Regions from separate parts of the Homo sapiens genome. Here regions 1 and 3 are each reported to be linked to region 2. The links are microRNA targets in miRTarBase. Many come from high-throughput screens and were not tested one by one. Region 2 holds a microRNA gene; each other region holds the end of a gene's coding sequence.
What was found. Region 2 holds the annotated microRNA hsa-miR-6809-3p (CUUCUCUUCUCUCCUUCCCAG, at 4,070-4,090, shown strand). A microRNA usually pairs through its seed, bases 2 to 8, with sites in the 3' UTR of a target mRNA and lowers its output. Matches are read on the target gene's strand: a 7mer-m8 pairs with bases 2 to 8, a 7mer-A1 pairs with bases 2 to 7 and ends in A, and an 8mer does both.

Region 1: the mRNA of NAV2 is a reported target of hsa-miR-6809-3p. Seed matches in the 3' UTR shown: 7mer-A1 at 975-981, 7mer-m8 at 988-994, 7mer-m8 at 2,434-2,440 and 8mer at 3,758-3,765.
Region 3: miRTarBase lists SHOX2 as a target of hsa-miR-6809-3p. Seed matches in the 3' UTR shown: 7mer-A1 at 5,298-5,304, 8mer at 4,899-4,906 and 7mer-A1 at 4,876-4,882.

What each region holds. Positions count from the first base shown.
Region 1 is chr11:20,117,610-20,124,801 of GRCh38, forward strand. It overlaps NAV2 (neuron navigator 2), which reads left to right. Exons shown (of 38, transcript NM_145117.5): 38 at 524-3,992. The coding sequence ends at 649. LOC107984418 (a long non-coding RNA gene) reads right to left here. Exons shown (of 3, transcript XR_001748477.2): 3 at 1-163. LOC124902643 (a long non-coding RNA gene) reads left to right here and starts at 5,331. Exons shown (of 3, transcript XR_007062615.1): 1 at 5,331-6,002.
Region 2 is chr2:217,897,411-217,904,602 of GRCh38, reverse strand. MIR6809 (microRNA 6809) reads left to right here and starts at 3,975; the gene lies at 3,975-4,090. It overlaps TNS1 (tensin 1), which reads left to right. Exons shown (of 33, transcript NM_001387777.1): 7 at 4,091-4,140; 8 at 6,634-6,805.
Region 3 is chr3:158,092,305-158,099,496 of GRCh38, forward strand. It overlaps SHOX2 (SHOX homeobox 2), which reads right to left. Exons shown (of 5, transcript NM_001163678.2): 5 at 3,601-5,980. The coding sequence ends at 5,723. Among named protein-coding and RNA genes, the nearest start is that of SHOX2, 11 kb to the right of the region's middle. RefSeq lists an enhancer at 5,694-5,863.

The DNA.
Region 1 (7,192 bases), not on the chromosome of region 2:
ACCTGGCCAGAGCAAGGAGAAGAGATGGGTTTGATGCTTGTTGAAGTGGGAGGGGGTCCATGTGCTTCCGATGTCAGTGATGCTGATGCCAAGTTCCAGGAACAGGGATGCTCAGCCACACCTTCATCCAGGCCGAGGGCTAGGCCTGAAAGGTGTGCCCCTCCTAAATAAAAAATAAATAAGCTATGTATAGAGATCATCATTTTGTTTTCAGTGCTCTACGTATATTAACTCAATCCACCCATAACATTATAGGGCAGGTACTATTATTATTCACATTTGACCAGTAAAGAAACAAGTATAAAGAGGTTAAGTAATGTGTTCAAAGTCATGCAGCTAGTAATTGGTGAAGCTGGGATTTGAACCCTAGAAGCCTGGCCCAAAGTCCATGTTCTTGTCCACTGCCTCCACTGTGGGCTGTTATCCCAGGTGAGTCTGGAGGAGGTGGCATGACCTTTTAGGAGTCCAGGGTGGGCGGCCAACTAGACAGAAAGCAGCTCATGCTTCTCCACTCTTCCCCTAGATGAACATGCTGATGAGGCTGCAGGAGGCAGCCAACTACTCCAGCCCCCAGAGCTATGACAGCGACTCCAACAGCAACAGCCATCACGATGACATCTTGGACTCCTCTTTGGAGTCCACTCTGTGACAGGGGCCCGGAGCCCAGCGCCCTCCTCTTCTCCTCACCGCATTCCACCTGCATCCCCCACATCACCCTGAAGATGACTTCCTGAGCCAGCCCCCAGCCACAGCCTTAGAGCTGCGGGAACACCGAGACCCCCCGTCCTTCAGCCTCGACCTGGGTGCAGGCATCCCGGGCCAGCTGCCTGCGGACCGCTTCCTTCCACAGCGAGAACTGCACTACCTTCTGTTGTACTTTAATTATTGTTTTGCCTTGTTGCTGTGACCTCCCTAAGACACTGAAGATACTTCTCGGGAAAGGATCATCGCCGTTGAAATGAAAAGAGAGACAGAGAGAAAAAAAAAAAGAGAACCCACATGAAGCTCTGAAACCAAACAGCATCCTGCCATGAGCTTCCCAGAGACAGAAGAGACTGGAGCAAAGTCGGAAACACAGAGAAGCACGGCTTCCCCTCAGCACAGACCCTCCAGACTGGGTCTCAGAGCCGTGCCACCCACCCTCCCACACAGCCGGCCACAGGGAGAACTGGTGCTAACCAGGGTGCTTGCTTTGGTCACGTTCAACGCACTACAGAGCTACGACACAGGGAAACCTTAGGAGCAAATAAACCGTGCTTTCATGTTTTTTAAATGGTGCTTTCCTTACCCGAGAGGTATTTTGCCTGTTCCAATCAAACCACCCCATTCAGGTCCATCAGCCTCTGATTAATATCCGTGAGAGTGAGTGACGGAGTGAGAGTGTGAGCGAGTGGATGTGGCTGTCAGTGCAGAACAGCATGTGTCTCTTTCCTTCTGATATATGAATGAATCAGGTTTTTTTTTTTTTTTTTCTGCAAACACTGTGTATAGTGAGACTTGTTCTACTTTGGAGAACAGGTTACCTTTTGAAAATGAGGTTGAGTTTCTTCCTTTCTGATGCATTGATTTTTGAAGATTTTTTTTTCCCCCTTCCCCTCTTGGTCAGAATCAATCCTTTGGTGAAAGTAAGAACCGCAGGAGTTGAGTTTTGGTTTGGTCCTGCTCAGTTTTGGTTTTTAGTTGTCCATCCTCACAGTCCTACACACTCGCCTCCTCCTGCTAGGGCTGGGGGTATCTGTGTCCTTTAAAATGGATGAGGACCTGGTCCTCGACATGTGGGTGAGCCATGGACCTTGCCTTCCCTTCTCGTCCTTGAGGGTTTAGAACACACACCAACACCTCCAGCGTCCCCGCCCCAGCTTCCGGTGGGGTGATGCGGTCACCCTGCAAAAGACTTGCACTTTCCTCAGAACCAACATGACGCAGCTCAATAAGGGTGAGGGTCACTCCCTCCCAGAAGCCCCGTCTGGACGAGCCTTGCCTGACCTCTTCGGTGCTGACCTTCCCAAAGTGATGCCTTACTGGTTTTGTACTAACTGTGTTCATTTTACATAAGTGTCGTGCCTGCCTGGGGTTTGTTTTTTTTGTCATTGTTTTCCCCATTGAAACAAACAGGGCTAAAAAGTCATCTGTTCATTAGGAGAACTCAAGTTGCTGTGACTTTTCTCATCCAAAAGACTCATTTGTGTGGATGCGTGACCATGGGAAAAAGAAAAAAAAAAAGATCCATTTTTTAGGTTCTTTTCGGTCTCCAGCTGACAACCCAACTGGACAATGATCTGTCTGGTGCAGGAGAAGGCAAAAGTTTCTACAAGTCTACATGACCTTGCTGATACTTGTTCTAATAGAAACCCAGTCTGCTGTGTCTTCAACATACTGGTATTTTCATTACAAAGTATGGTAAATTTTTGAGTTGTTTGTTTCTGTTTTGTAAAGAGAATCCTTATTGGACACCAGTGAAGGTGTCTCTGTTTTAATGATCAGGGTTTTTATTCCATCTTTTGCATTTCTTCTATTTCTGAAGGTTTGTCTCTTGGCATCTTTTTTTAGTTTCTTACCATAAGAGTTTGACCCGAAACTGCTCACTTCACATTGGATGACACCATGTTCTTCCTCTTTGAAAAGAAAAGGGGAATGTGTCCCACTAGTGAAAGGAAAACTTTTCAACACTATCCCTGCTTTAGTCTCAGCAAACTCAGACTATTCTGCTTAGCCTTCATTAGTCATCTGGGTGTGAGTGTGTCTTGTTCTGTTTTTCTTTTTAATAAAACTTTTAAACCATATATTTAGCCTGTGACCAGGGGGGCCAAACCCTAAGATTTCTGGTAAACCTGAAGGGTGGCCCTCCTCAGACAATTTATCTCCCAGCAATGACCCTACTACACTCGCGTACTGTGAATTTGGGAGGAGGTAAAGTTGACTTCTCCTCGTGGGCAGTTTTCCAATCACCTTGTGAGTAGACACCTGCCAATATTGTTTGAAACCTTTTTTTAATATGACATCCTCTCTTGTCATTCTCTTCTCCCCTTTCCCACAGACTTCCCTCCTGGGTCCAGGTTCAGAACCAAGACTTCTGTACCTAGTGCTGCCTGATTGGTGAACATTGACTTCAAGTAGCATAGCCCTTGTGTGACTCACAACTCCGTGTCCTTCCTAAAGTTTCGGGAAGCAGGGTTGTCTAATATGCACATTTCTTATTTTGGTCATATTTTTACTTTAGTGTCACTCACCTTTTACAAAGTGACTTTGTACTCATTTAGGGCTCTATCGGAAATGCTTCCATTTTGCCTTTTCTACAGTTAGGCCAATTTTGAAATATATAAATTCTATGCAACATTTATGTTGAGTTACCAATGGAAGCCAAAAGTTCTCTTCCCAAACTGCCAAGAATGATACAGGCCATAATTGAAATGGGAATACCTTTTAAGTTTCATTAGGGGTGGGGTGGGAGTGGGACAGGAACAAGACTTGCCTAGATCTTTGTTGTATCTTGGGGACTTTTACTTTGTTGTTTGATGCTTAAACTTCAAAATTCTCTGTATTCAAATTTGATTGTGGCGAATCTACTTCAAAAAGGAAAAATAATCCAACTTTGTGGATATTAAATGGAAGGTTTGCTGTTTTGATCTAGTTGTTTCCAGTGGAGCAGTTTTATGAAATATGTTCTATAAGATGTACATTTTTTCATTGTAACATAGAAATTGTAAATAATTGATTAAAGTGCTGCATTTTGATGAATTTTTTCTAGCCATTTTTAAAGAGAAAACTAGGAATTGAGTATTTTGTGTACGGTATGTTTCCATCCTCCCTCCCCTTCCTCCTCCCCTCCTCTCTCTCTCTTCCTACCTATTTAATTTTCATTTGTCATGAGGTTTTTGGATTTGCCAATGATCTGCTGGACATCATGCCCCATGTCATAGAGAATAAAGCTGATGATTGTACCAGTCTTAAATTATTCATGATTCAATAAAATTGATGCTTATTTATTCAGATTAGTGGTTTGGCTTGTCTGTGCTAGAGCAAGTCCTCATAGGAGTTTTATTTCATGCTAAGAGCAAGTCAGTCTTATCTGGATGCAGCAAATGCAGGGAAAACCCCAAACCTTTGCAAACCCATCTTGGCTAGTATGCCATCAATATCCCACATCTTCTCAGTTTCTCAGGTCTTCTTGCCACTCCTGTGGAGCTTGTTAGAACTGTAGAATTTCAGATCCTCTCAGACTTTATGAATCACCAGGGATCTAGTGGATCCTCAATTTCTAACAAACTCCTAGGCAATACCAGTGCTCTAGTGCCTGGACCACACATTGAGTGGCAAGCAACATCAGTGTCCAGCCAGCCCCCTAAGTCGATCCCTTGGCATGAAAAGGATTTTTTTTTAATGTATTGAGTACCTACTAATTTCCAAATGCTTTCCCAAATACTCAGTATAATGCAAAATGATGCCAGAGAGGTATTCTTACTCCCATTTTACAAGTGGAAAAAAAAAAAAAAAAACAGAGAAAATGACGTGCCAAGGAACCTATAGCCAAGAAGTGAGTTGGAGTTTCAGCCCCATCTTCTGACCGTCCTGCCTTGCCAGGCTGCCTTCTAATCTTGGGGGCCTCCTGTCACATTGCAGCTCACATCCATAGCAGACACAGGCAGTGGGAGATGACCTTACATCTCAGCATTCACTTTGAATAGCAACAACAAAAAAGGCATGGTTTGGAGTCCTGTGGGTTCACAGTGAAATTGATCCCACATGGCTGGCTCAACTGCTCACGACATGAAGTGTCTAACTCTTAACATACAACAGTGGCCCAACCAGGGAGGAGGTAAAGAATCCAGATATTTAGCATAGGCAGTTTTAATCCCTGTCAAAAAAATAATAAAGAAGGGGTAGTACAAGTCTGACGACTAGATGTCCTGAATTCCAAGATTCTATGTCAAACATTCTATCCCATTGCTCCATGATATATTCTGAGGTTACCTAGGAAATATGATCAGCATACATAAAGGGGATGGTGGACAGATGGCTTTTTAAAGAGCAGGGAAGAGCCAGGTGCGGTGGCTCACGCCTGTAATCCCAACACTTTGGGAGGCCAAGGCAGGTGGATTACCTGAGCCCAGGAGTTCAAGACCATCCTGGCAACATGGTGAAAGCCCCTCTCTACTAAAAATACAAAAAATTAGCTGGGCGTGGTGGCACGTGCCTGTAGTCCCAGCTACTCAGGAGGCCGAGGCACGAGAATCACTTGAACCAAGGAGGCGGAGGTTGCAGTGAGCCAAGAATCACGTCACTGCACTCCAGCCTGGGCAACAGAGCAAGACTCTGTCAAAAAAAAAAAAAAAAAAAAAAAAAAGAAGAAGGGAAGGACAGGAACTGCATAACTGCATTTACGTACTCACTGGGTACCAGACGTATAGAAAATTTCACTCTATCACATATAATTACAGCACCTCTAAGAGGCAGGTGTGATTATCTCCATTTTATAGTTAAGAAAACTGAGGCTGAGTAATGTTAAATTAATACATAGTAGAAATGGAATTCTTGGTATATCTGATTCAAAACCCATGCCTTTTCTGCTACGCTAAGCTACAATCAACTTAGATAGGACTTCGATGGAGGATTACACATCCCTTCTGCATTAGCTCTTTATTGCTGTGTAACAAATTAACCCCAAATTTGGCAGCTTACAGCAGAACATTTTCTAACAGTTTCTGTGGATCAGGGGTTCAGGTATGTCTTGTTGAGTACTGTGCCTCAGGGTTTCCCACAGAGCTGTAGTCAACATGTCTGAAATAAAATTTGCAAGGAAGAAAATATTTAAAAGCAAGAACAATATAAATCATATTTAATGGTAAAATGTTAAATGTTTTTCCTTGCAGATTAAGAAACAGATAAAGATGTCTCTTACCACCACTGAATATTGTGGTAGAGATCCTAGTCAATACAGAGAAACAAGAAAAATAAATTATGAGGATTGGAAAAGGAAGAAATTCAACAGTCTTTATTCACAGGTAACACTTTGTATTTAGATTATGCAACAGAATTTACCGGTAAGTTATTAGAAATAATAAGGTAACTAAGTTTTCAAAGTCAGTACATAAAAATCAGTTGAACATCTATATGTTGCCAGAAGTTTTAAATTTTTAAGAATACCAATTTAGGCTGGGCACGGTGGCCCACGCCTGTAACCCTAGTACTTTGGGAGGCCGAGGCGGGCGGATCACGAGGTCCGGAGATGGAGACCATCCTGGCTAACATGGTGAAACCCCATCTCTACTAAAAAATAGAAAAAATTAGCCAGGTGTGGTGGCGGGTGCCTGTAGTCCCAGCTACTGGGGAGGCTGAGGCAGGAGAATGGCGTGAACCCGGGAGGCGGAGCTTGCAGTGAGCCGAGATCGCACCTCTGCACTCCAGCCTGGGGACAGAGCAAGACTCCATCTCAGAAAAAAAAAAAAAAAAACAATTTAAGAGCACAAATGTCAAACACTGCAGAATAAATGCAATATAAGGTGTGCAAGACTTCTATAAAGAAACCTATTAAACATAGTTGAGAGAAATTAAACCCCAAATAAAAGTAGGAAAATATTATGCTTTTGAGTTAGAATACATGTTGTGAACACGTCAATCCCTGCAAAATGAGATTTGATGCAATCTCATTTAAAAGCCCAACAGAGTTTTTATAGAATTGACAAAATGATTCTAAAACTTACATGGAAATGCATGGAAACTTAATGGAAATGCAACAGGTGAAGCATAGCCAATGAACAAGAACAAGAAGAGAGAGTTTTTTCTACCAAAAATCAAGACTTATTATAAAGGTCATTAAGACCTTATGCTATTGGTATAAGAATTGACAAATAGTTAAAAAGAACAGGATAGACACCCCTGAAATAAACCCAACACACACTTGCTTTGCTATATGGAATCATGAATAATGTCTCAGAAGCAAAGAAAATGTGACAAAGAACACATGACAATGGGATCCACTGGTTTTTACTCTAAAGCCGAAGGTTGGACTGCCCTCTTCAAGGTTAGTGTAACTAAGGCACCAGCTCAGGAAAGACATTTTGTGTTAGAGCACTGTCATCTAGGAAACAGTATAAATTTTCAACGGTCAGCCATTATTTGTTGTTTGTTGGTTTTTGTTTTGGAGACTGGGTCTTACTCTGTCACCCAGGCTTGAGTGCAGTGGCGTGATTAT
Region 2 (7,192 bases):
TCGGGGTGGGTAAGTGTGCTGTCTTGTCTGGCTATGGGAGGAGAGACAAAATGAGCTTTGGAAAGGTAAGCAAGTGAGCAGCTACCAGAACGGCCTGTGTACTGTAAAAGAGGAGAGAAAACCTAATTTGTAAGGCTCCTGTCACCTGTCTCAGGTTGGGTTGGCTCCAGGGTCATTGAGCCAGTCCCCTGCCCAGCCACGGGACTCTCCAGCAGTCCACCCCGGGGGAGGAGGACCTGGGCCTGCTGCTGTGATAATGTGGCTGTTTGTCAAGCTGTGTTGCTGTCTCTGGCCCACGGCCCAGGACTCACAGGCAGGAATGGCTGTTTTCCTCCTGCCGAGTTGGTGTGTAGTGGAGTTTGTGGATAGTGTGCTGTGTCGCACTTTGTTTTGGAAAAATCCAGGCTAGTGGGCAGGAAGGAGAGGGGAAGGGGTGTGGCTGAAGGGGGTGCTATGTGGGGGTTGGCCACAGCCCCCAGAGGAGATGTAGGAATGGGGCCGGGCCCCTGACGTAGGTTGGTCACCAATCTCTGGCTGCCTGACAAGGCCCCTGGTGTTCGCTTACAGACCCTCCTCCCAACTGTGCCCCTCTGGGGATCTGGGCTCAGGAAATGGCTTTTCTTTTGGTCCTGAGCTGTTGTGTTTGGTCTGTGGACCTCAAAGGAAAGCAGGGCTCTTCCCACAGAGGCATTGCTTCAAACCAACCCCACCCAAGGCTGGAGGTTCGTGCTCCTTGCCTCATGACGGGGAAGAAGGCAGCAGATAACAGAACCTGGGGTCATAGACCTTGAGCCACCCAGTAGTGTCTGAGTGGTGATCCACTCTTGCCTGCAATGAGGACCAAGGCAAAAAGAGTTGGCTGAATCTGCAGCAGGAAGGATGAGGGTTAGATACCAGGAGGAAATTCCTGACAGTGAGAAAAGTAAGACACTCTGTCTGGGAGGCTGTCGAATTTCCTTTCATGGTGCCCTTTCAGCAAAGGAAGGATTGTGTTTTGGAGGTAAGGATGGGGAGAGTTCTGTTTGGTGTTTAGAGAGTTGGATGAAAAGTTCTGTAATCAACCTGTGTCTTGAGAGGAGCCAGGAAGAAGTTCAAAGCCATTTGGGTAAGGTGATTTGTGATCCCCGGAGAGGAAAAGAATAGGATTACAGGCAGGCAGAGAGCTTATTTTCCTTTTTATAAGGTTTGTAAAGTCCTGTAGTCGTTTTCCCTAGGGGCTCCACGCGGAGTAGGCAGAAGATTATGTGAGCACTGTGCAGTGCCCATTTTACAGATGGACAAATGAGACGGAACCTCTACTCCTCACACTGGGTATGGTGATGAGTATCATGGTCTGTAAAATATAAGCTCTCTGAGGTCAGGGACTTCACTTCCTTTGTCCCCTGGTGTCTAGAACATGGCTGGGCACACAGCTGGTGGCACTCGGTGGATGTTTGCTGAATGAGAGAATGAGCATGAAGATTGGAGGCCCAGGGATGACCGGATGCCTTGTGTTACTCCCACTGTGCTTGTAAAAAGCCTACGTGATGAGGCATGCTTCCAAAGGCACCATCTCTAGCCTCGTGTGAGGTCACCTGTGTTTCTGGAGCAGTAGGGTGTGTTTGCTGACATGCCGTGCCCCTGCCCCAGCCCATTTGTTGTTCTCTGAGTTCTGTCTGTCTGTGTGTACCGACACTCAGACGTGTCACCGTGCATGTCTGCTGTCCGCCAGCAAGGGTCACGTGCCCCCAAACTTTGCAGAAAACAGGAAGCCCCGTCAGTGAGAGGGCAGCCCAGTGATTCATCAGGGGATGACAGTCCCAGCTGTTCGTCCCCCATCCTCTGCACTGGGGTCACTGTCCAGGGTGGCTTCCTCCCCATGCCTCCCCTCCCCTCCCCGCCCGGTGGAGCAGAGCGGGCTTGGACTTTGCCTTATCACCTCTGGAGGCGGCCTGGCCAGACTCTGTTTGGGCCAAGTTTTTATTTATCTTCACTGGCTTTTTTTGGGGTGGGGAGGCTGAGGAATGTGGAGTGTTGTAATGTTTGGAAGAGGGCGGTGGGGAAAGGGGAGCCAGGTCTCCTGTCCTGCTTGTCCTGCTTACCCCTGCACCTTTGCAGGCTCCCGGCCCCCCTTGGTTCCCCAGTTCCCCCTGCCAAGCCCATATCAATATGGCCCATTGTCTTTCTCCAGCTCCCTGGGTCTGGTCCCATGCTCCTGGCCACACCTCACGTCTTGGCTACCGTTGTGGCTTCCAGTTGTTCAAAGCAGCTGTGGTGGCTTCCTCCAAAAGTGGCTACGGATCAGCAACAGATGAAACTCAAGGGGCTATTTATAGCAGGGTGGCCCTGGGGCCTGGAGCAGGGCCTAGGGCCTGGGGAGATTCAGGGACTCCTCATTAGGGACCAGTGAAATGGAGATGGGTGAACTGTTGGGTTTCTGTGTTCCTCTGAGGGGGCAGTTTTGGAACAGCCTGGTTTGGGTCTTGAAAACCAAACACAGTCACTCGTTGACTCCCAGCTCCACCCCTGTCTAATCCCCCCACCCCCAAGCTTGACTCATGCAAACTGGAGTCCTCAGGGCCAGAAGAGCTGTGAGACTTAGAAACTTCCCCCCAGTAGCCCCACTTGGCTCTTCCCTCCTTCACTGCTGAGGAGCTGCTCATTGGTCCGAGGCAGCTGGGACTCTGGGCAGAGCCTTCTTCCGGACAGCTGGATGGAGGGTCCCCCTCTTAGCAGAGCTGCTCTAACTTGGGGCTCAGCTGGGAGCTGGACCTCGGAACCCACCTATCCTGCCTCGTAGGCACTGCGGAGCCAGGAGAGGGGTGCAGGGGCTCCTCTTCTTGGAGACCCCGTGGTCAAGCCCCAGGTTGGAGTGTGAATCCTGCCTGGCCGTCAACTTCCCAGGGACTTGAGGGTAAGTTATTCTGTGCCTCAGTTTCTTCCTTTCTTGGCAGATTGTGGTCCTGTCTCTTTAAAGAAGAGGCTGCAACTTGGCGGTAGGAAAAGACCATTTTCTGAGAGGCACATGGGTGTTTGGAAGGTGTCAATGGGCTCAGGAGGTCTGAGAATCTAGAAACTGGCCTTCCCAATTCTGCATCCTGTGAGGTGACTGGAAGGATGGGTAGAGGCGATGCAGGGTGTTGGTTTTCTATAGAGGTGAATGTTTGGTTGTAACTACCCTTTTCATTTTTCTTGATACAAAAGTAACAACAAAAACAACAGCTGTCATCTGGTAAATACCAGGCATGATGCGAAGTGCCTTATATGCATAACTCCTTTGGATCCTCACTGCCAGCCTGAAGGTTGTCCCATTTTACATGTGACATTACAAGAGGCTCAGAGGGGTTAAGTAACTGGCAGGGCTGCCCAGCAGGATCCTGGAATCCAAACTCTGTGGTCTGTGGGCCTCTGACCCTGTGCTTTCACACCCGCCATGCCATCCTGCTGCCCTGGGATGGATTGGGCCCATTTGCTTAAGTTTGTACCACTCGACAGCTGTGAAAAGGGGAGTGGGTGAGATGGTTACTGTCTGCCACAGACAGTGGGGAGTGGGCCCTCAGGAGCATGGCTCACTGTCTTAGGCCTCGTCTTGGTTCCTGCATGCTCCACCTGCCTGTTCTGGTCTCTAAACTCAATTGAATGACTTGATGTTACAGCTTTCAAGCAGAGAAGTGTGGGGTGATGGTGGCAAGACAGAGGGGCGCCATTACTCTCATCGCTCCTTTTGTGGTGGCAGTCGTATTCTCCTCCTGGGGTTTCTCTTGTGTTGGCGAGTGTATCAAAGTGAAGTGTGTTTCCATTGATTCAGTAACTGTTGAGTGTGCCCTCAGTGTGGATGGCACCAGCCCAGTGGGGTGCACTCCTCAGCATTCGGGATTCTTCCTTTTGTCCCTCTGGGGCTTGCACACAGGCAGGCACACTCACGTGGAATCAGTGTTGATGGCTTTGGCTTCGGGCAGGCTGTGTTTTTGCAGGGGTTAGGGTGGCAGGGCCAGAATGTTGGCAAGGAAAGAAGAGGATCATGTTTGCCCCCGTGGACAGCTCTCTGGTGTGCTCCTCCTGCCATCCTGCCCACCCCTGCATAATGCTGCTTCTCTTCTCTCCTTCCCAGGGCTCCACCAGGGTCACCCCGAGTGTCCAGCCCCACCTCCAGCCCATCAGGTATGCCTGGCCCGTGGGGGCAGGGGGCGGGAGTGCAAGCAGGGGGGTCACTGTGGGTGTCCCTGTTAAGTCTTGCCTCTGGGTCCCCCGGACTGCAGCCATAAAGCCACGGGTGGGGAGTGTGGGCAAACGTGAAAGGCACAGGAGAGGATGCGTGCGGATGCCGTTGGCAACAGTTGTGTTTTGAGCTCTTAGCCAGCCCTTGAGCTGAGTCTTTATTTACCTGCATGAGCTCATCTAGTCCTTGCAACAACCCCGCAAGGTACGTATTTTATTCCCTTTGGTAGAGCAGCATTTCAGAGAGATGAGGTGACTTGTAAAGGTCACACAGCCACCAAGAGGCAGCACTTGGATTTGCGTTTAGGGCTGATGAGCATTGAGGCCTGTGCTGGATCTCTTCCTCTCTGCAGACAGGATTCTGACTGGGCAGAGTCATTTATGAAAGGGAAGTTCCCTATCTGGCTGGGCTGGCAGGGGCCGGGGGAAGGGGATGCACAAGGGACTTTGTGTCCTGGCGATCCAGAGAGTTTGTTTTGCCCTCTCTGCCTCACCTTCACCCACTGAGGCTCCTGAGATGATTGGGGATGCCAGCCCTGCAGTAGAGTTGAAGCCCCTGGAAGTTTCTGGCCCAGCTGCCAGCTGTCCACAGACTGGAGGTGGCTCCTTAGAGGATCCCCTCCTTCCCTTAGACCTGGGCAGGTGGATGCAGAGTGTGATGCTGAGGCTGTCCGGCTGGTGGCACTGTTCTGCATTTGCGTCCTTCCTGGGATCCAGCCTGTAGACAGGGGCGGGTCAGTGCCCCAGATGGGCCACGTCTGACTCATGGCCCTCACCAGCACGGCCCCTCTTGCTCCCCTTCCTGTGCTGAGGGAGAGGCTGAAATCACAGGAGCTTGTCTTGCGAGTTTTTCTGACATTCTAGTTTCTTCCTTGGAGCCAGAACAGAGAGGGGTTTTGGAGGATGGGGAGGAGGGGATGCTGCAAGTTAGCTGAGGCTCCCCGCCCTCACACCCACTTGCTTGCAGGTATGTGTGCGTGTGGCTTCTTGTCCCAGACTGGTCACCACCTACAAGAACTGTCCTTGGGTAGGCAGTTGGCTTGAGATAGAAACTTCTCCCCCACAGCTGCAATGAGAAGCTTTCCATAGGGACAAGAAGTAGCTGGGACTCAGAGTCAAACTCAAACCGGGCTCCTTACCTCTGGGTGCTGGTCCCCAGTCCCACTCAGGCCCCTGTCATCCCAACAGAGAGGTCCTGCCATGCCTCATCCTTGGCTGCCCCATCTCCACACCCCACCTGGACTGGGATTGAACCCTGGTGGAGGTCTGGATTCCTCATGGCTTCTCAGCATCTGGGGGCTTGTTCTGTCTAGTGCCAGAGAGCCCTCATCACTTTTAAATACCCCAGTGGTATTCCTTTCGCTGCCCTCCACTCTCCACTTTATCCCGCTGTGGTGAAAGGTTAGCAGAATGAAATGTCAGTGCTGCCTGCATTTGATAGAGGGGGAAGCGAGACACTAGGAGGTCAATGATTGGGGAAAAAGCTGGAGGGATGGGGGAGGTGCTTCTAGAAGCAAGAGGTGGGCTTCCCAAGTGGGCATCCTGGACCCTTCCTCTGGAAGAAAAGTTGGGAGAGATGTAAAGATGCGAGCCCCTCCCTTCCTCACCCAGTGCCCAGTGGAGAGGATGGCCAGCCCAGGGGCCTCCCCACCTCTCCGGGAAACGCATGGTGCTGGCGGCTGCCCGCCACTGCAGCAACAAGGGCTCTGTGCCCTCTTGTTTTCTGGGCCCTTAGAAATCAGGGAGGCTGCTGCCAAGAAGCAGCTCTGGCAGGCAGTGGGAGCTGCCAGAGGTGGGGAGAAGGCCAAGGAACAAAGGGCAGGAGTTGGCCTGCCTCCGGGAGGGCTGGAATGTGTGCTGTGGTCTGGCTTACCTGGAACCCAGGTGAACGTGTCACCTGAGATGCCCCCTCCCCTGAGAGGTTTCCCGCCCACTCCACAGCTCGAGAGCTAGGGGCGGGCAGTGGGAAGTCTCCGTTCCAGGGCTGGAGAGCGCCCAGCGCAGGCTCTCCTTCCTCTTCCAGAGCAGTCTGGGGCCTTTCGGGAGACTTCTGCCTGGCCAGGCAGCCAGTGTTGGGAGCCAGAGCTCCTGGGTTCCTGGGCCAGTCTGGCCCTGGCTCTGAGCTCTGGAGTCACAGGTTGAAGGCAGTGGCCAAAGGACTGATGGGAACCAAGAATTGGTGTCATCACAGTTTGGTTCTGAAATGGCCTGAGGTCCTTGCCAGCCCTACCCAGCTTGTTCTCGCCGGCACTCCCAAGCCGGCCACATTGGCCTTGCCAGAGGAAGCCTGTGGCCTTGGCCTTGGGTTGAAGAGCAGCCAAGCACCCTGGGCTGCATATGGGGGTCACACAGGGTGTGTATGGGGTGCAGCTATCTGGGGCCTTCCCTGTGGGCTGGATTCTGATATGGACCCTCCGCTGCCTGCTGTCTCCCTAGAAACATGAGTGTGAGCCGGACCATGGAGGACAGCTGTGAGCTGGACCTGGTGTACGTCACAGAGAGGATCATCGCTGTCTCCTTCCCCAGCACAGCCAATGAGGAGAACTTCCGGAGCAACCTCCGTGAGGTGGCGCAGATGCTCAAGTCCAAACATGGAGGCAACTACCTGGTGAGGATGGATCCTCGTGCCCACTGTCCTGTGCCCTCTATGCTTCCATCTGCTCACCACCTCTACATGACTGGTATCCCTGCCACCAGCCCCTGTGCCAGCATGCCCTCTTCTCTTTGTTTATCTGCCTTTCCCCTCAGGCAGCTCTCGTGCCTGAGTCTTCAATCACTCTCCAGCCCAGCTCTCCTCTAAGGAGTGTGCTGCAGCTGGAATGTAGCATCTGGAACTCTGTGTGTGCATGTGTGTGCTGGCCAGGAGAAGAGAGTACCAATAAGAGTTCAGGTTATTGAGCGCTTGCTACTAGCCAGGCCCTGTTCCAACTGCTTTCCACGCACTTAACCTTTGCAGCAGCCCTAGCAAGCAGGCACTTGCCAGAGCACAGAGAGG
Region 3 (7,192 bases), not on the chromosome of region 2:
GTTTTACAAATATTAACTCATTTAATCCTCCTAACCATTCCATGAGATAGACACTATTTTTATCCACATTTTACAGATAAGGAAACTGAGGGACAGAGAGATTAACTTGTCCAAAATCAGAGGACTGGTAAACAGTAGCAGTGAAATTTGAATCCAGCAGTGAAGCATAGCTCCACAGTGTGTGCTCTTAAACATACACTATTCTGCTTGAATAAGAGTCTACAAAGATCCTTACTCAGGACATATGAGGAGTTGTTCAGCAAGAAAAGAAGCATGTTTACTCCTCCCTATTTGATGTATTTGATTATATTCTAAAACCTTTCCTCATGCCAATAGAACTCCGCGTATTATACTAAACTTTCCTGCACCGAAGGCATATGTAATGGTTACCTTGACTGACATGTAAAATACCCAAAACAAAATACCCCGAGACTCGAGGATTTTTTGTTTCATGAATTAGACACCAAAAAAAAAATTGTCTAGGCATCAGAAGTGTTATACACTCACATCTGTAAGTCTTTCTTGGGATTTTCAGATTTCTTATACAAGATTTTTTTTTGTCTGAAATATTTCAGTGCTCACTCAATGCCTGAGCTTGAAAATTATCTAATCCTTTTTAATTTTTTCATTTTCAGCTACTTTGCCTTCAGGCATAGGGCAGGGCAAGCACTTGCTTTCAATATGATGTTTAACACTTTTTATGTTTTTATTTTCGTCATCTTGAAAACATGCTAGTAAACATCCAAACATACTGTAAAGATTTAAAATTTGGGGTGTGTATACGTATATCAACAGGAGTTATGAATTATGTATATTGCAGGCCTATATAAATTAGATTTTGAAGAACAAGCATCACAGTAATCAAGCGGGTCATAATAAGACATTCCATGTGAAATGTAAAAACTACCTTGAATAAATTATCTGTAAGTTAACATTCTCATTAGAATGACATATTTATTATTTCTGGGTTTGTGATATTGCTTTAATGTATTTTGGCTAACTGTTTTAATGGCATATTAAGAAACCATTTCAGGCCTTTTTTCCCCGTTGGAATTTGCAGACTTTTATTTCCGTTTGAACTAAAATAATATAATATTAAAAACAATCCCCCACTTCCCAATGTACAATACCATTTTCTTCTGCCCAGAAATATTTAATTAAAGCAGGATATAACCTCAGTAATTATTTTTACACAGAATGACTCTTAAATTAATAGTCAGTTGTATGACTAAAAATTGGGAGACTGACAATCAAAACAATCTTAAATGCTTTGTTTATGTGATGAAAATGAGTGATCCTTTAATTCCCTCACACACATTAAACTGATTTCACAGATTTTCTGTACTGGTGTTTAACATAGTCAAGTGCTTGAGGTTATGTAAAATAAACAATCTTGAGATCTTATTGCAAATGTTTGCAATTTATGATGTAAACTGATTTGTGAAGAAAAAACAGGATCCTATGTCGCTGAAGCCAAAGAGGCATTTTTCAGAAATCAAAATAGTTCCGAAATTTGAGCATTGCATTATACTAAAGTATTACCATCTGAGGACCCAAAAAAGTTATAAATCTGGGGAAAAACTCAAAATAGATGTACATCAGTTCAGCTCCAAGCAAAGGCACCGATCTTACTATCTTACTGTGTCTCTTGTATCATAGGGTCCTTAACACTAATGATGTCTTAAACAATCTCTTTTAACTCAGTTTTTCCCAGTCATTGATTTTGCAACTCGGGAAGGTTTTGCATGCCCAAAAGATTTGGGGAGCAGAGGATGGGGGTGTCCTTTATTAATTATATTAGGATTATTGAGTTTCGACCCAAACTACAAGCATGTTGGGCCTTATTTAAATTTAAAGTGAATTCCTCAGACCCCTTCTTGGGATGGTTCGGGGAACTACGAGTTTGGAACTCTTGTTCACACACCGAGGCGCCTGCCCCAGAGTTTGGACACTGGCATTCCGGGAGAGCAGGCCTTGCGGGAGTCTGGACCCGAAGGGCGAGACTCCACAGGGCCAAGGAAAGCGGCCTCTGTCCTCCGTTAGTCTTGGGGGAGCAGACGCAAGAGGAGGCAAGGGCGCCGCGAGCTCCCCGGATGCACTGGTCCCACAGGCCGTGCCCGAGTGGAGCACTGCGAATGGGGCCAAGAAATTTTGGCCTTTCTCGCCGGACCTGGCTGCCTCCGCGGGCCTCTCCGCCTACCGCGCTCCCGCCGCGGCCCGACTCCCGCGGGTCTCCGCGCCGAACCCACCTGGCTCCTATCGCACGGGACATTCCCGACCCACCCACGCCGCGTCACTGAGCCTCTGTACCGATACCCGGCGCCTCCGCCAGCAGGGCCTGGACGCACCGCCTCCTTTGACCTCGGGCTTCCCCCGCGCTCCGCTGCTTGGGGCAGACTGGCCCCGAGAGGGAGCCACCATCTCCCCTGCTCCAGGGTCTCCAGGGTCCGAACCCGTGTTGGGATCTGGGTTAGGATTAGGGTTTGGAGCTTGGAGCCTGCCTGTTAGGACCCCCGGCCCCGGCGCCGACTGGAGCTCGCTGGAGGCCACAGGACCACGGCGGATGGCCTGGCTGCTTCAGGGCGTACCATGCCCGCAGGCAGATGTTTATTATTAAAAACTACCGACGTTCATCAACCAGGAGACCCGCAAGGCCTGCGCACTGAATACGGCCCAAATCCTGTTCAGTGGTCTTTGAAAGTTAAAAGAAAGAAACCTATCGCCCACGTCTATGCTGAGGAACAGCTTTGAATACGAGCTAAGACCTGGGAGAGGGCCAAGTGGGGGTGGTGGGGAACACTGCTGGAGGATGTGGGGCTTTGGCAGGGGTTTTACGCACCCTCCAGCACGAGGGTGGGGGGTCCCAGGGGACGCTCAGGACTCTTTCAGTCTTTGCGGAAGGTCCCGTCATCACAAGAGCCCGCGCGGGAAGGAAAGTTCCTGCCTTGGACATGGTCAGGGCCGAGTCTTCAAAGTCTCCAACTATCCCCACACAGGCAGCACCTTTGGGCTTTACTAGTGGGATTTCTTCCAGAAGGGGGCCACGACATGGGGAGAGAGAGCTCCTCATTATTTTCAAGGCCAGGCTTTTCCTAAACCCGATTCTGGCTTCCACCTTCTAAATTTAACCAATGAAGAAGCTGCTTCAGCCAACCCTAAACAGGAGTGTCAGATGGGGAATCCTCCCTCCACAGTGCCCTGGCCTGCCCGCCTTTGCGGCTCTTTTCCCGCTCCGAAGTCAGCACCTGCCCCGCTCCAGAGAGGGTCAACGAACTGGGACTGATTGTCGATTATGCCATACCAAACCCAGGTTGATTTCGCTCCGCAGGATCCCTCCTTCCTTCCTCCCAAAAGTGTCCCCAGATAAAGACTGGAATTATAGCAAAACGAATAACGAGAGTCCATCTTGGGGAAGGAAGTTACTCTATCCTATGTTATTTTACTTCTTATCTGTTCTTTCATTAATTTGGTATAACCCTGTTTCTATGCTGGGTGGATAAAATGGAGGGGGCCGGCGGAAATGCGCTCAGCGCTAACGACAGCCACAGAGCCACCCTTCTTACTGCCCCTTGACTGCGGCACGTAAGAGCAGAGGCAAGCGCTTTTCCAAGTTGGTATATTCGAGAGAGTGATACGCATTAATCAAAAGGGAAAGACTATCCCGGATATTTTAATAGTAACAGGAACAAAGATGACTCGAACCCCATCAAATGAAACGATATTTTCATTCAATTGATCGCAAAGTGTCTTCAATTAATAACTTGGCACTTATTTAAAAGGTTTAACAGAATTGGAGGCGACACATTTTGTACTGACAACACGTCATGAGATAACATCTTTTGTTTAAAATAACTTAATACACTAGAAAAAAATATGTCAAATATAAATAATTTTGTTTTCATGGAGAACAAATAGTTACAAAGCTCAACCGCATACCAAAGTTCAGTTAGAAGAGCTTTTCCTCTTTCTTGTAAATTAGAAGGTAAAACAAAAACAAAAACAAAACCCCACAAACTTAGGCTTGCTAGCGAATTGGGATACAGACTGGCTTAGTCCAAGGTATCCCAGTTTAAATAGCTACATGAATTGAAACAAACAACCAAAAGAAAAAAAAAAACAAAAAAGAAACAAACAAACAAAAAAAAAAGGTTACTTGAATAGATACACCTTTGTGAGATAAAATGCAAATGTTGAAAGTCAGTCCACACATTATAGTCAAAATAAACTTTGTTCGTGTGTATCAACATATCTTACACAAACCTAGTGCCTGTATCTAGCTGGGTGTTATTTAAGGTGAATTTGACGGGATAGAGAGGGGGAAATAAACCACTGTCTTCAAATAGGACTTCAGGAAACCAACAAGAAGGAACACAAGAAAAGGGGAATGGTGGGAACTAATACTGATTGAGCGCCTACTGTGTCTGGCACAGCGAGGCGCTGTACCTTCATTATTTCATTTGGTGGTCTTGTTTTCTTTTTCCTTTCCCCACATATTCTGCCCACCTCTGTCTTCTTAGGACAATGAGTGTAATTTTTTCCCTTTCTGACTTTTTTCTTTTGTTCCCCAGGATCAAAGACAGGGCAAATATATATATATATATATATATATATATATATATATATATATGGCAAATATATGATATATATATATGGATATATATATATCAATTTCCAGATACTTTTGGTATTGTTTTTCATAGTGAAGATGAAAATGGAGTGAGTGCATGGGAGATAAGGGGGTGGGAGGAGACACACCATCAATGGAATACAAGTAACATGCAAACCGGAATTTACTGTCAGCAGTCCAGACAGTTTTGCCATAATAATTTCTCAGAGAAATCATTGTCTGTGGCATTTTTTTGTGTTAATATTATTTTTCTCTCTCCTCGTTTTAATATTTTCTCTTTTCTTGCTCTTCCATACATGGTGGGTTTAAACTCAAAGCATCTGATTCAACGTAAAAGGAGGCCCGCCTCTCTCATCAAATTTCTCGTGTTAACGTGAACTTCGCAGAAAAAGGTCAGTTTCAAAACCTGTGAACTTCCCAGCTGCGCACTTTTTTCATCTTAGTTTTTTAAATAAGTATACCTCTTCTTTCTGCTTTGCCTTCTTAGCGCATTTTTAAAAACACACATTTAAGTTGGTAACTCCCCCCAGTCTCTCGAGAATCGTCTGGGTTGTTTTTCCATATTTTTAAATGTATAAAATACTTTAATTTTAAAATTTGTTTTTGCTCCTTGGTTCTCCAATTTCAGCTTCTGCCAAATAGCAGTTAAGAAATAAGTTCCCTTCCTCTTTTTCTCTCCCGTTTGTCTTTCGATTTTTTTGTTTGCTCATTTTTTCATTGTTAACAAGATTTTTTTTTCTATGCAAGAGTCCATCGTTGCAGCTTTGCGGTGAGCCAAACTCCGCGGTTCCAGCACTCCCCTGTCCAGTCTCTCTCCAGACTCCCCCAAACCCGCTCCTACAAAACCCAATTCTAGGCCCTCGAGTAGGAAAACGGGCAGGAGCCACGGAGCCTGCGTGCCTCGTGAGATCCCTGGTCCTGCGTGGAGTCTGGCTTTCCGAGTCCAAGATGCGATAGGGGACGAGGGATGGTCAGTGAGGCGGGAAGAGGGCCGGCTCCCGAGGTCTCAAAGGGGTAACGGAGAAGCAGCGGGGCGCGGAGGGCGTGCAGGCTGAGTGCCGCGGGACAGGCGCGACATTGGTGCTGGCGTTGGCGTCACAGACCCAGGGCTGCGGCGTGCTTTTTGGCTTTCAGTCTGAGATCGGCGATGCTGGAGTTCTTGCTGGTGGTCTTGGCGGCTGCTGCGGCCGCCACTACCGAGGCGGCGGAAGCCGAATCCGCGGCCAGCGTGGCGAGCGGCAGTCCGAAGGGCGGTGCTGGGAACATCATGTAGGGCGCGTGCGCGGCCAGGTGCGGATGCAGGTGGTGGTGCGCGTGCGCCACAGCGCTGTCCAGCTGCAGCTGCGCCTGAACCTGAAAGGACAAGGGCGTCACGTTGCAATGACTATCCTAGGGTGACAACAGAATAGAAACAGAGCATTAACGGCGTCCAGCTTGGCCAGAGAGAGAGTTGGGTTGTGTTTGGGCACGGGGAGAGGGCATTTGGCTGTGCATCTTGTTCCGACAGTGACCTTCTCAGCCTGTTGCTGAATCTGGGGTTCCACATGGATACTCCAGTGTCCCCTGGGTCTCCGAAACTCGCTTAGGGTAGGCTTATTTCCCCGGACCCCGGGAACCCCCTTCTGCAGGAATGTGGCCGTCTCCCCTGGGAACTGGGCTGAAATGGTATATTGGAAAGACTGCGGGTGAGGACCCTTACCCTCTTCTCTTGATGCTGCCATGCATCTCTTACCCCACTACCAAAACAACGGAGTATCAACAAGCAAACTACGCAACTTTTTAATGTCATTCAGGGAAGTTACTCCATCTTCACCACAATAGGCACAATTGTGAGTCGGTACTTCTAACCTTTATTGCCATAACAATTACCCAGGGATCTCGTTAAAATTCAGATTCTGATTCGCAAGGTCTAGGTTGGGGCCTGAGATTCTGAATTTCTAACAATCTCCCAGACGGTGTTGTTGCTGCTGGCCCAAAGATTACCTTTTGAGTAGTAAAGGTCTCCTTTTAAAGTCACCCCTCCCTCTTTCTTCAGTCATTCTCTCTTGTTTCCAAAGCCAAGCATCAGGATGCCAGAGTCCTGTGGCACCAAGAGAGCTAAGATCTCCCTAACACCGACTCTCAATTCATGGTCACACCTATCTGTCTCCCCGGTCCAAGTCACTGGAGACTGAGAGCTAATTCATGACATCACAGGCATGCCAAGCAGGGGTCCTGGCTGAGGATAGGGAAGGTCAGACACTGGTTGGGAAAGGATTTCGCCCTCAGGCTTGGAAAGTGGGGAGTTCAGAGCACTGGGATTTCCCAGGATTAAATCATTGCTGCAGGCTGTCCTTTTAAAATGTACTCTTAAAGGTTTCTTTATGGCTAAGGGATTGCAAAGGCAGGGCAGCCCTGGGAAGACCAAGACTTCTCTCTTTACCAGAGATGAAGCTTTGTTTGCAGAAACAGATTTAAAAACAAAAGAACGAAAAAACAAAAGTATGAGCTGGGAGTACTTGTGTTTATTTTTCTTCTGTCAGAGTTATTTAATGTGACTAAGAGGTAGAAAATACCTAGAAAAGT